Regions from separate parts of the Homo sapiens genome. Here region 2 is linked to region 1. The links come from fine-mapping of genetic effects on gene expression. A gene starts in region 1. The other region holds a variant in brackets. All regions are shown on one strand. Distances are between the middles of the regions.

The links. PIP is the estimated chance that this variant, and not a neighbour inherited with it, causes the effect. A credible set is the group of variants that fine-mapping cannot tell apart.
Region 2: its variant is the best candidate, but not a certain one, in a credible set for the expression of FCRL3 in whole blood (TOPMed, PIP 0.52).

What each region holds. Positions count from the first base shown.
Region 1 is chr1:157,698,480-157,704,010 of GRCh38, reverse strand. FCRL3 (Fc receptor like 3) reads left to right here and starts at 3,242. Exons shown (of 15, transcript NM_052939.4): 1 at 3,242-3,349; 2 at 3,426-3,552; 3 at 4,299-4,319; 4 at 5,382-5,531. The coding sequence starts at 3,522.
Region 2 is chr1:157,541,576-157,546,751 of GRCh38, reverse strand. It overlaps FCRL5 (Fc receptor like 5), which reads left to right. Exons shown (of 17, transcript NM_031281.3): 4 at 1,670-1,921; 5 at 2,206-2,490; 6 at 3,615-3,893. Among named protein-coding and RNA genes, the nearest start is that of FCRL5, 8.4 kb to the left of the region's middle. The variant TC/C (reference allele first, on the strand shown) is at 2,771.

The sequences.
Region 1 (5,531 bases):
ACCAAAAGCCTCTCCTTGTAAATATATAGCTCTCATACATTTGTTCTTTTGTTTTTAGTTCTTTTACATCTAAACCCATGCCCCAATTGTTTGTGTCTCTGAAAATTTGCTCTGGAACTTTAGACTCCCTCACTCCCTCCCCACTTAAATCTCCACACAGGGGAAGGCGTATACTTGTTCATAAACCCTTCTGCCAGTAGAGTTGCATCCAGGGGGAAGAGCATGGAGTTAAGTTTAGCATGGGGCCAGGTGCGGTGGCTCATGCCTGTAATCCCTGCACTTTGGGAGGCCGAGTGGGTGGATCATGAGGTCAGGAGATCGAGACCATCCTGGCCAGCATGGTGAAACCCAGTATCTACTAAGAATACAAAAATTAGCTGGGCGTGGTGGCACGTGCCTATAGTCCCAGCTACTCGGGAGGCTGAGGCACCAGAATCGCTTGAATCCAGGATGCAGAGTTTGCAGTGAGCCGAGATTGTGCCACTGCACTCCAGCCTGGGCAACAAAGTGAGACTCTTTCTCAAAAAATTATAGTAATAATAATAATAAGTTTATCATGACTCAATTATTCTTCCCAAATTTACTGATCACATAAGGCACGTCACTTCTTCCAGGATGGAGTGAGTTAAGGAGCAGAAGGAGGAACAGGAGTAGGAGTTGCATGCACATGGAAGAAAATAGATGTCCCCCCAACACAACCATTCATTAATATATTCAGGCAAATGAAAAGTTATTCTGTTCAATTAGATTTGGCGTATTTAGCAAATAAAAATATGGGACTCCTAGTTACATTTGTATTTCAGATAAACAGTGACTACTTTTTAAATGCAATTATATCCTGATATGGCTCCATGTCTCCACCCAAATCTCATCTTGAACTGTACTCCCATAACTCCCATGTGTTGTGGGAGGGACCCAGTGAGAAATAATTGAATCCTGGGGACAGTTTTCTCCATACTGTTCTTCTGGTAGTGAGTAAATCTCACGAGATCTGATGGTTTGATAAGGGGAAACCCATTTCGCTTGGCTCTCATTCTCTCTTTGCCTGCTGCCATTCATGTAAGATGTGACTTGCTCCTCCTTGCCTTCTGCCATGATTGTGAGGCCTCCCCAGCCATGTGGAACTGTAAGTCCAATAAACCTCTTTATTTTGTAAATTGCCCAGTCTTGTTACGTCTTTATCAGCAGCATGAAAACGAACTCATACATATCCCAAGTATTGTATGGAACATAATTATAGTAAAAATTATTTGTTTTTTATTTGAAATACAAATTTAAATGAGACCCTTGCATTTTATCTGGCAATCCTCTACTGAGTGTTAGGCACTGTGCTAGGTGCTAGAATAATGTGAATATGACATAGTTCCTGTCTTCAGAGAGAGACGTAGAAAAATGTAACATTTTTGGCTACAGATGAGCAATTAAATTCAAAATACTCTTTTCTGAGCATATCTTTCCAACCACAGGAAACAATACTTCAGAGTCATCAACAACATCGTCACCTTTGAGCATGAAGTATATTTGAGGTTTATTCATATTTTGAATTAGTCTGAAATGACACACTGAATCTCGAAGCTATCCATATCCCACTGAACCTTCCTTTTGTTGATGAGCATGCTGTCCTCAGAGAAATAAAAAATAAGCCCTAACCGCTCCCTTCCCTAAAGATACTTAGATCATTGAGGAATACCATCAAAGGGACAGGATGTTTCAGTTCACTGTGATCGGTTCTGGAGTGAAGGAAATCCAAGTGTTATTGATGCACATGAGAGGAACACCCAGCCCAAATGTGGGAGGTCAGAGAATACCTCTCAGTAGATGTGGCACCATACTCTACAATTACAAGTTTACAAAGACCCTGTAGTGTGGATTAACTGGGTATAGTTTAAATAAATAATTTAATTTAATTTAAATAAATTGATATAACCAATATATCTTCTCCAGAATATTGGAGAAATCTCTAACCAGGAATGACTAAGCACACATTGAAACACATCCAATCCTCTTCTATTGTCATCCTGTTCCTTACTGTTTGTTGGTCGTTCATTTGGCAAGTCCTTATTGACAAATTGGTATGTGACAAGTGCTCTGTTAGGCATTGAAACAAAATGAAGAACAAACCAGGCTTGTTCCCAAACCTTGTAATACTATCTAATGAGAAAAATAGGCATTATACAATCACATAAACATATAGAGAATGATAAAATTTGGTGACTTCCATGGGAGAAAGAACATAATAATATTTGTTAAAAAAGAGGACCCTCTTTCCATTACCTGCCAAGGTTGGGCACCCTGAGGATGGGACATTTGATCTGAGATCATCTCCCATTTCTAATGTAAAGGTATCTGAATGATGACAACTTTATCCTGGTAGGTAGATTCCCAAGAATGGCTTACCTCTAAGTCTAAAACACGCCTTCCTAACAGAAGTTATATCACCTTCAAAGGGGCAAGAATTGACTCTTGGGAAGATGAAAAAAACTAATTTTTTAATGTATCAAACACAGCTATACATGCAGCACATAAACACATACATAGTATATTTGTGGTATTAAATTTTCATGGAAAAAGGGGGTGGCTAAAAACAAAATTGTCTAAAAAAGATCCTTAGGGGAGCAATAACGAAAAAATGGTTGAGAAACACTGGTTCAGAGTTTTTATTCAATAGTCCCTCAAATAATACTTACTAAAGGAATGCTTTCAAGAAAGAACAGTTAGAGGTGCGGGGGATATAAGGGGTAAGAAAAGGGGCCCTTAAATGTTAGTGGGAAAGAAGACACGAAAGCAAACAAGGAAATAGAGAAAATAATTGCAAATTGTTATAAACACTGTGAAAAAAACACAAAGGACCTGAAACAAAATAATGGGGTGGAACCTCTTTGATTGCAAAGCCCTTTCTGAGAAGGGCTTTGGCTTTAAAAACGGTGGTACGCTTGCTGATTTATCTCCTAATTTGCAGATCTGGGTGAGATTACGGGAAGTCCTTGATCTGTACATTTGTATTATTTTCCTGTTCAGAAGCCTCATAACAACTTATGTGAAAGTCAAAAAGGCATATGCTTGACACCTTGACTGTGTGATTCACACCACGCTCATTAAGCTTGCCTACATTAGGAGCTGCATGCAGAACCAAAGGCTGTGTGAAGACAAGGTAGTGAAGGGGTTTCCCATATGAAAAATACAGAAAGAATTATTTGAATACTAGCAAATACACAACTTGATATTTCTAGAGAACCCAGGCACAGTCTTGGAGACATTACTCCTGAGAGACTGCAGCTGATGGAAGATGAGCCCCAACTTCTAAAAATGTATCACTACCGGGATTGAGATACAAACAGCATTTAGGAAGGTAGCCACATTCACATTTTCAGAGCCCAAAGCAAAATATGACACTAAGCTCTTCTTCCCTTTTCTGATTCTTGCAGGTCTCATCTGAGTAGCAGCTTCCTGCCCTCCTTCTTGGAGATAAGTCGGGCTTTTGGTGAGACAGACTTTCCCAACCCTCTGCCCGGCCGGTGCCCATGCTTCTGTGGCTGCTGCTGCTGATCCTGAGTGAGTAGATGGGCTATAATGGGGCCACGGCCTCAGTTCCTAAAGGTGACCAGGGAAAAACTCAAGGAGCTTCTATCTCTGCTTCTACTTGGGGTTCAGAGACAGATAGCAAGGGATGGGAAGTGAGCAGAGCTGGGTTCCCTGGACAACCAAGAGGCTCCAAATGCAACCATCAGAGCAAGCCAGATATCCTGACCTTGGTTTCTCACCCACTGCTTTTCTCACCTCATAGGAAACTTGGATTTTTCCTTCTGCCAAACCACAACTCTATATCCCACCCTCCCTCTTAAGCCTCAGACTAAATAATTTTTCAGATGAGCAGTTACTTCTAAAAACCTAGGCACGTGAAGGAAGGTTTACTGAGAAACATCACTGTTTTCTAGAAGTTTTAAGCCAAAATTTAATCAGAGATTGAAAAAGTGAGGGGAACAATAGGAGCCCAAGGAACGAAAGGAGGATAAACCATTTCTGTAAGTCCTTGTCTGCCTCTGCACTCAGAGAAGAGAAGGAGAGAATAAAGTGTGCCGTGGCCAAGTAAATAATAGCAGAGATGAGGTCAGGCCTTGGACATAAGCCATCACGTTTGTAAAATACATTATATGACATTTTCTTTGTTGTTTAGGGGCTCTGGATGATATAAAAAGGGAGCAAAGAAATGATAAGGAAAAACAAAAGAAGTGGTTGTGGTTAGGTTGTTAGAAAATGTTTCGGAGAGTGTCTGATTGTCATTTTCTGCTCCCTCACAGCTCCTGGAAGAGAACAATCAGGTAAGTTTCTCCTTCTCTCTGCCCCTCTGGTCTCTGGATATTGGTCCCCTCAGCCCACACAGCCTGCCCTAACCCTTGCAGGCACGCATCCCATCAGCAATGCTAATGCTCTGGGGTCACATCTGCTACTATATTGGGTGAACAGAGCCTCCTCCGACTTTTTCAGTCTCTAGGTTTTTTTTTTTTTTTCTCCCTACATTACCGGTATTCCTCAGACTACAGGAAGGAAACACTTGCAGAGCAAAGGACAGAGGCAAGAGGCTGATGATGAAGGAATCTCATATGTGATCTCCATATTCTCTAGTACATCTCCCTCTGAATGTCCAAGCTAGTGCTGCTATCAAAGGACATAGAAATAGATCCCATCCACGGAGGAAGATGCTACAGCAGAATCCTTATAAATCTCCAAAAAGAGCTCATGCCACTGCCACACCTCACTTCCATGCCTGTCAGTCAGTTGCAATTCCATACACAAGTCTGACTTCTCAGGCAACCCATCCTCCTCCATTTAAATTCTTTATATCCCTCCATTGTTTACTGTGTCCAACTTAAATGGAGAGTAAAGTTGCCTTCCCCATAGACTTTCAAAGCTAAGAGAGATATAAAAGTAATACAAGTGAGAAAATCTTATTCATTTTAAGTGTTAACAAGTAGGAAGTAATTTTCTGGAGTCTAGAAACTACTTCTGAGGTATATACATCCCAGGTTCACCTTTATCTGGACAGAAATGTATAGGACAAGAGAATTTCAGGATCAGCCACATTCTGAGGCCTTCGCAGTTTTTGCCCAATGGCAAATCACATCTCCTGAGCTTTTCTGAGGCTATGCCAGGAAACTGAGACCTCTCCCCTATAATACCCTTCTGCCCACCTCCAGGAAATGGATGAGGAAGAACAGATTCTTTCCCAGGCATTTCCCTAGGTTATTTCTGCTCAATTTTCCACCCTGGTCCTGACTGGAAATTAGTCCAGGAAAACTCCTGACTGTAGGTTGGGCTCCCCATGTGCTGTGCCCACCTCCCATTGACCTTCCCCTGCCTTCATCTTTCTATTTCCTGTTTAGGGGTGGCCCCAAAAGCTGTACTTCTCCTCAATCCTCCATGGTCCACAGCCTTCAAAGGAGAAAAAGTGGCTCTCATATGCAGCAGCATATCACATTCCCTAGCCCAGGGAGACACATATTGGTATCACGATGAGAAGTTGTTGAAAATAA
Region 2 (5,176 bases), 160 kb after region 1:
CATTAAAATAAATAGAATTTTTACTTGAGTGGATTAATGTCTCTAAACCTGTGGTTCTTAAAGTTTGATTTGAGTCAGAAAGCCTGGGCAGCTTATCAACCATACAGATACTCAGGACCTACCTATGCTTATTCAATAGAAACCTGTAGAAGTGGGGTCCAGCAATTTATATTTTTTACAAGCCTCTCCGGTACCAGAAAGTCTGAGGATTAATTTATTTGAGTGGTTCCTGAATCTATGTATAGCTTTTTGGTTTGGTTTGGTTTGGTTTGGTTTGGTTTGGTTTGGTTTGGTTTGGTTTTTTGAGATGGAGTCTCGCTCTGTCACCCAGGCTGGAGTGCAGTGGCGTTATCTCGGCTCACTGCAACTTCTGTCTCCCGGGTTCAAGCAATTCTCCCACCTCGGTATCCCTAGTAAGTAGGACTACAAGAGCCCGCCATCACACCTGGCTAATTTTTGTATTCTTAGCAGAGATGGGATTTCCTCATGCTGCCCAGGCTAATGTTGAACTCCTGGGCTCAAGTGATCTGCTCACCTAGGCCTCTCAAAGCGCTGGGATTACAGGTATGAGCCACTGCACCCGGCCTCTATGTATAGTTTTAAGTCACATTATTTACTTGGAATAATAAGTGGCAGGAGAATTGTTCATACTTATGGGTAGATAATGCATAGGTAGATAAATATACAGAGAAAGAAAGATAAAGGAAGAGACATTTCCTTCCTTGTCCTAAAGCCACCTGTTTTGAAGTTGAAGTTACATCATTTTTTAATGTAGTGGAAGCAGTGTACTAGCAAGGAATAAACAAAAATGTTTATACTCTTTGACTTAACAATCCGTCTCTTAAGAATTTGCCTACTGAAACAATCACAGATGTCCATCCCTGAAAATGGCAGACCTTAACATGGTTTAGAAAAAGAATACCTGGCCAGGCGCGGTGGCTTACGCCTGTAATCCCAGCACTTTGGAAGGCCAAGGCGGGTGGATCACGAGGTCAGGAGATTGAGACCATCCTGGCTAACACTATGAAACCCCGTCTCTACTAAAAATACAAAAAATTAGCCGGGCTTGGTGGCGGGTGCCTGTAGTCCCAGCTACTCGGGAGGCTGAGGCAGGAGAATGGCATGAACCCGGGAGATGGAGCTTGCAGTGAGCCGAGATAGCACCACTGCAGTCCTGCCTGGGTGAAAGAGTGAGACTCCGTCTCAAAAAAAAAAAAAAAAAAAAAAAACTCATTAAAGAAATTACATTACTGCCAGTGAAGGAAAACCGCAAACATTAAAAATCAGGTTCAATAATGATACTAATGATGTAGGAAAGTGTTCATAGCATAGTAAGTGAAAGGAAAGTTATCAAATCTACAAATATTAATATTATTCCATAAAAGAAATACGCATGAGCTCCAAGTACTTGAAAGTGGAAGAGAAAACTGGAAAAACATATGCCAAAACATGGGTGGTGAGATGGTAGGTGATTTTACCTACATTTCTGCTTTTCAACTTTTCTTAAGGTGTATGTGTTCATTTTTAAATCAGAAAAAAAGAAATGATAATTATTTTAAGAGTTCTTTTTCCCAACCCATTTTTTTAAAATAAAATCTACTTGGAAAAACAATGAAAAGAAAGGGGAAACAGTAGGATGAACCAAATAACTCTATTGTGTTTCTCATAGCTTCGCTGATCCTGCAAGCTCCACTTTCTGTGTTTGAAGGAGACTCTGTGGTTCTGAGGTGCCGGGCAAAGGCGGAAGTAACACTGAATAATACTATTTACAAGAATGATAATGTCCTGGCATTCCTTAATAAAAGAACTGACTTCCATATTCCTCATGCATGTCTCAAGGACAATGGTGCATATCGCTGTACTGGATATAAGGAAAGTTGTTGCCCTGTTTCTTCCAATACAGTCAAAATCCAAGTCCAAGGTAAAGCCTTCATTATTTTGTGAAGTGAGTTGGTCAAAAGGAGATTCCTTGGGGTCATAGAGATAGAACAGGAGGAAAAGGGTGGACTGGAATACCACTAAACCACAGGACACATTCCTGCAAGGAGCAGAGGAAGTATAGTAGTGTTTTGGGCTGAAGGAAGCTAGGGATCAATGGCATTCCTTTCTTTGCCTGCTTTTGGATGTGCTGCTGCTTGAAGTGTGCTTTTCTCCAAAGCAGTTCCAGCCTCATTGCTCTGGGACTGTTGTGATTCTTCTCTCTAGAGCCATTTACACGTCCAGTGCTGAGAGCCAGCTCCTTCCAGCCCATCAGCGGGAACCCAGTGACCCTGACCTGTGAGACCCAGCTCTCTCTAGAGAGGTCAGATGTCCCGCTCCGGTTCCGCTTCTTCAGAGATGACCAGACCCTGGGATTAGGCTGGAGTCTCTCCCCGAATTTCCAGATTACTGCCATGTGGAGTAAAGATTCAGGGTTCTACTGGTGTAAGGCAGCAACAATGCCTTACAGCGTCATATCTGACAGCCCGAGATCCTGGATACAGGTGCAGAGTAAGTGTTGGTGGAACCTGAGATTTGCTGCAGAGAGGGCTGGAAAAGTGGGACAGGGCTGCATATCAGCGTGGGTCACCAGTCTCTGTAGAAAAAACTCGTACCTGTGAGAATGGGAGTTGTGCAAGCAAAGAGACCTCTACTCTTGTGAACATCTTAGAAGAGCTTAGACCCAGGAAAATCCAAGAAAAGAAAGGTCTAATTTTTTTTCTTTCAATGCCATTAAATACAATTCTTTCTTTTCTCTCGCAGGGTTCTCTTCCCTGACATCATTTTTTTT[TC/C]TTCTAGGCCCATAGGGATAAGCCATGGGCTGTGGCATAGCTCTCTGACTCTGGTGTACAGAGGTATCTGTTGTCCCAATTAACATTACTTATTGACAATAACCAAAGTGAAAATTTCTGTAGGATACAAAGACAGGTTGCAACATTATAGTTACTCCAAATATGTGACTCTGGAGGTTTACCATTCCCTAGTTATGAGTACAAATATGCACCCCAGATTACATCACCTCCCTTACTAGTATACAGCACCATCCTTCCTTCAAAGCTATTATGGTAGTTACAGTGATGAGGGAAAAACAGCTTCTGTAGAGCCCTGTGTCATCCCTCCACTCATGGCAAACTCCGGGCTCACTTATAAGGAGGCAATGTGATCATCACCAGACTAGGAGTCAGGACACCAACTCTGGCCCTGGCTGGCCCTGAAAACAGCCTACACAGGCAGGTCTCCTAGTCTCTCCTTGACTCAGTTTTCTCACCTGTAAATAAAGAAGGTCAGTCTGGGCCAAGGGAGAGAGTAGGAGCAGAAGAAAAAGCTCTAGAAGACTATGCTAATCTTTAAGGAAAAACTAGCAATGGCAAATAAATCCCTGAGGCCAATGCAAGTGAAGGAGAAATAAACAGGGATAGGAAAGAAGACTCAGAATAATTGGGCACTTCAGGTGCAACATTCCATAGTCATAGGGCAGAAGGAAGGAGCAAGAAGCAGGTGCAGGTAAGGGTGTGTGGTTCTGATGGCAGCAAGTTAAGGGTGGAGACTGGAGACTGGGCATTTGCACTGGCCATGCCTTGTAATCTACAGTAAGAGGCAAAAGCAATTCTTGACTAATTTTTTCTCTTGCTCAGTCCCTGCATCTCATCCTGTCCTCACTCTCAGCCCTGAAAAGGCTCTGAATTTTGAGGGAACCAAGGTGACACTTCACTGTGAAACCCAGGAAGATTCTCTGCGCACTTTGTACAGGTTTTATCATGAGGGTGTCCCCCTGAGGCACAAGTCAGTCCGCTGTGAAAGGGGAGCATCCATCAGCTTCTCACTGACTACAGAGAATTCAGGGAACTACTACTGCACAGCTGACAATGGCCTTGGCGCCAAGCCCAGTAAGGCTGTGAGCCTCTCAGTCACTGGTAAGCCCTGCATTCCTGCCAATCACCCACCCCTGGCCAAGAGTCCTGCCTCACCCTGCCCTTCGGAAGTCAGCATATACCTTCCAGTATCCTCAGTTTCTTTCTTGGGAAAACCTAATGTCCTCCTCCACTCTCCGGCTCACTGAACCAGCTGTCTGCCTCTTGAGTCTCGTTGCATTGCAGTCTAGGTGCCCTTATACCCCTGCCTGATGGTGCAGTGGCTTTCTATCCCCTGGTTCCCAATTTCTGAGAAGCCAAGTGCTTTTCTTGTGCTTTCCACTTGTCCTGTGGCTCCCCAGATGACTGATTTTCATTCACTATATTATTCTCAGTAGACACAGACTCAATTTCCAGGAGCACAGAGGTATCTCCTGTTCTGTTAATATCAGACATTAATCAATAAACCAAAGGCAAAGACATGTAAGACACAAAGACAAGTCGCTGGATCATAGTTAACCCAGCATGTCCTTCTTGCTCAAGCCTTTTTTAGAGTTGATGGGCAGTAGGTAAGAAAGGCACGGGCAATGGTGGGCTGGGGGCAGGCCAGGAGATAGCTTCACCTCTACTTGCTTGGCTTAATGCCCTCAGAGCTATTCAGGTAGCTGCCAAATAGTTATGACATCAAAAAGGTTTCCTTTGAGCTTTGGATCTCAGTTTCGAACCATCCATGCATGGCTGAATGCCAGGTCCAATGTTGAAGGAGACAGTGTGATTTGGGTCTATACTGGTGACAGAGAGTCCAGTCTTGGTTGGTCCTGGAAGCGGCATCAGTTTCCTTTCCTGTAAAACAATAATACCAGCTTGGAAGACAAGCAAGAATCCAGTCCCTCCCACATGGATGTGTGAGATTATAAAGGAGAGGACCAGGGAACCCAGCGGGAGACATCAAATGACGTAGAAAGAGAACAGTGTCCCTGACATTCAGTGGCCCAAAGAAAGTGGAGACAGTGACATCATGATCAAACATGCTCAGAGATGTTTAAAGTCCTATTCAATGACTCACTTCTTCACCTAATAAATGCTGATTGCATATATTCCATGGACCAGACTGTACTGACATCTAAAGATGCATCTACGACTACACTAACCTGGCCTTCCCCACACAGTTCGTAGGGGCTAATAGCAAATGCAGTCAAGTAAGAGATTAAACATCAACCTGAGGATAGAAGCACCTGGTGGCTGCAGGAGCAGATGGAAAGGCATGCCAATCTGAGTTGGGAAGTGAGAAAAAATTTCTTGGAAGAACTCATGTGTGAGTTGAGACCTGAGGATGAGTGGGAACA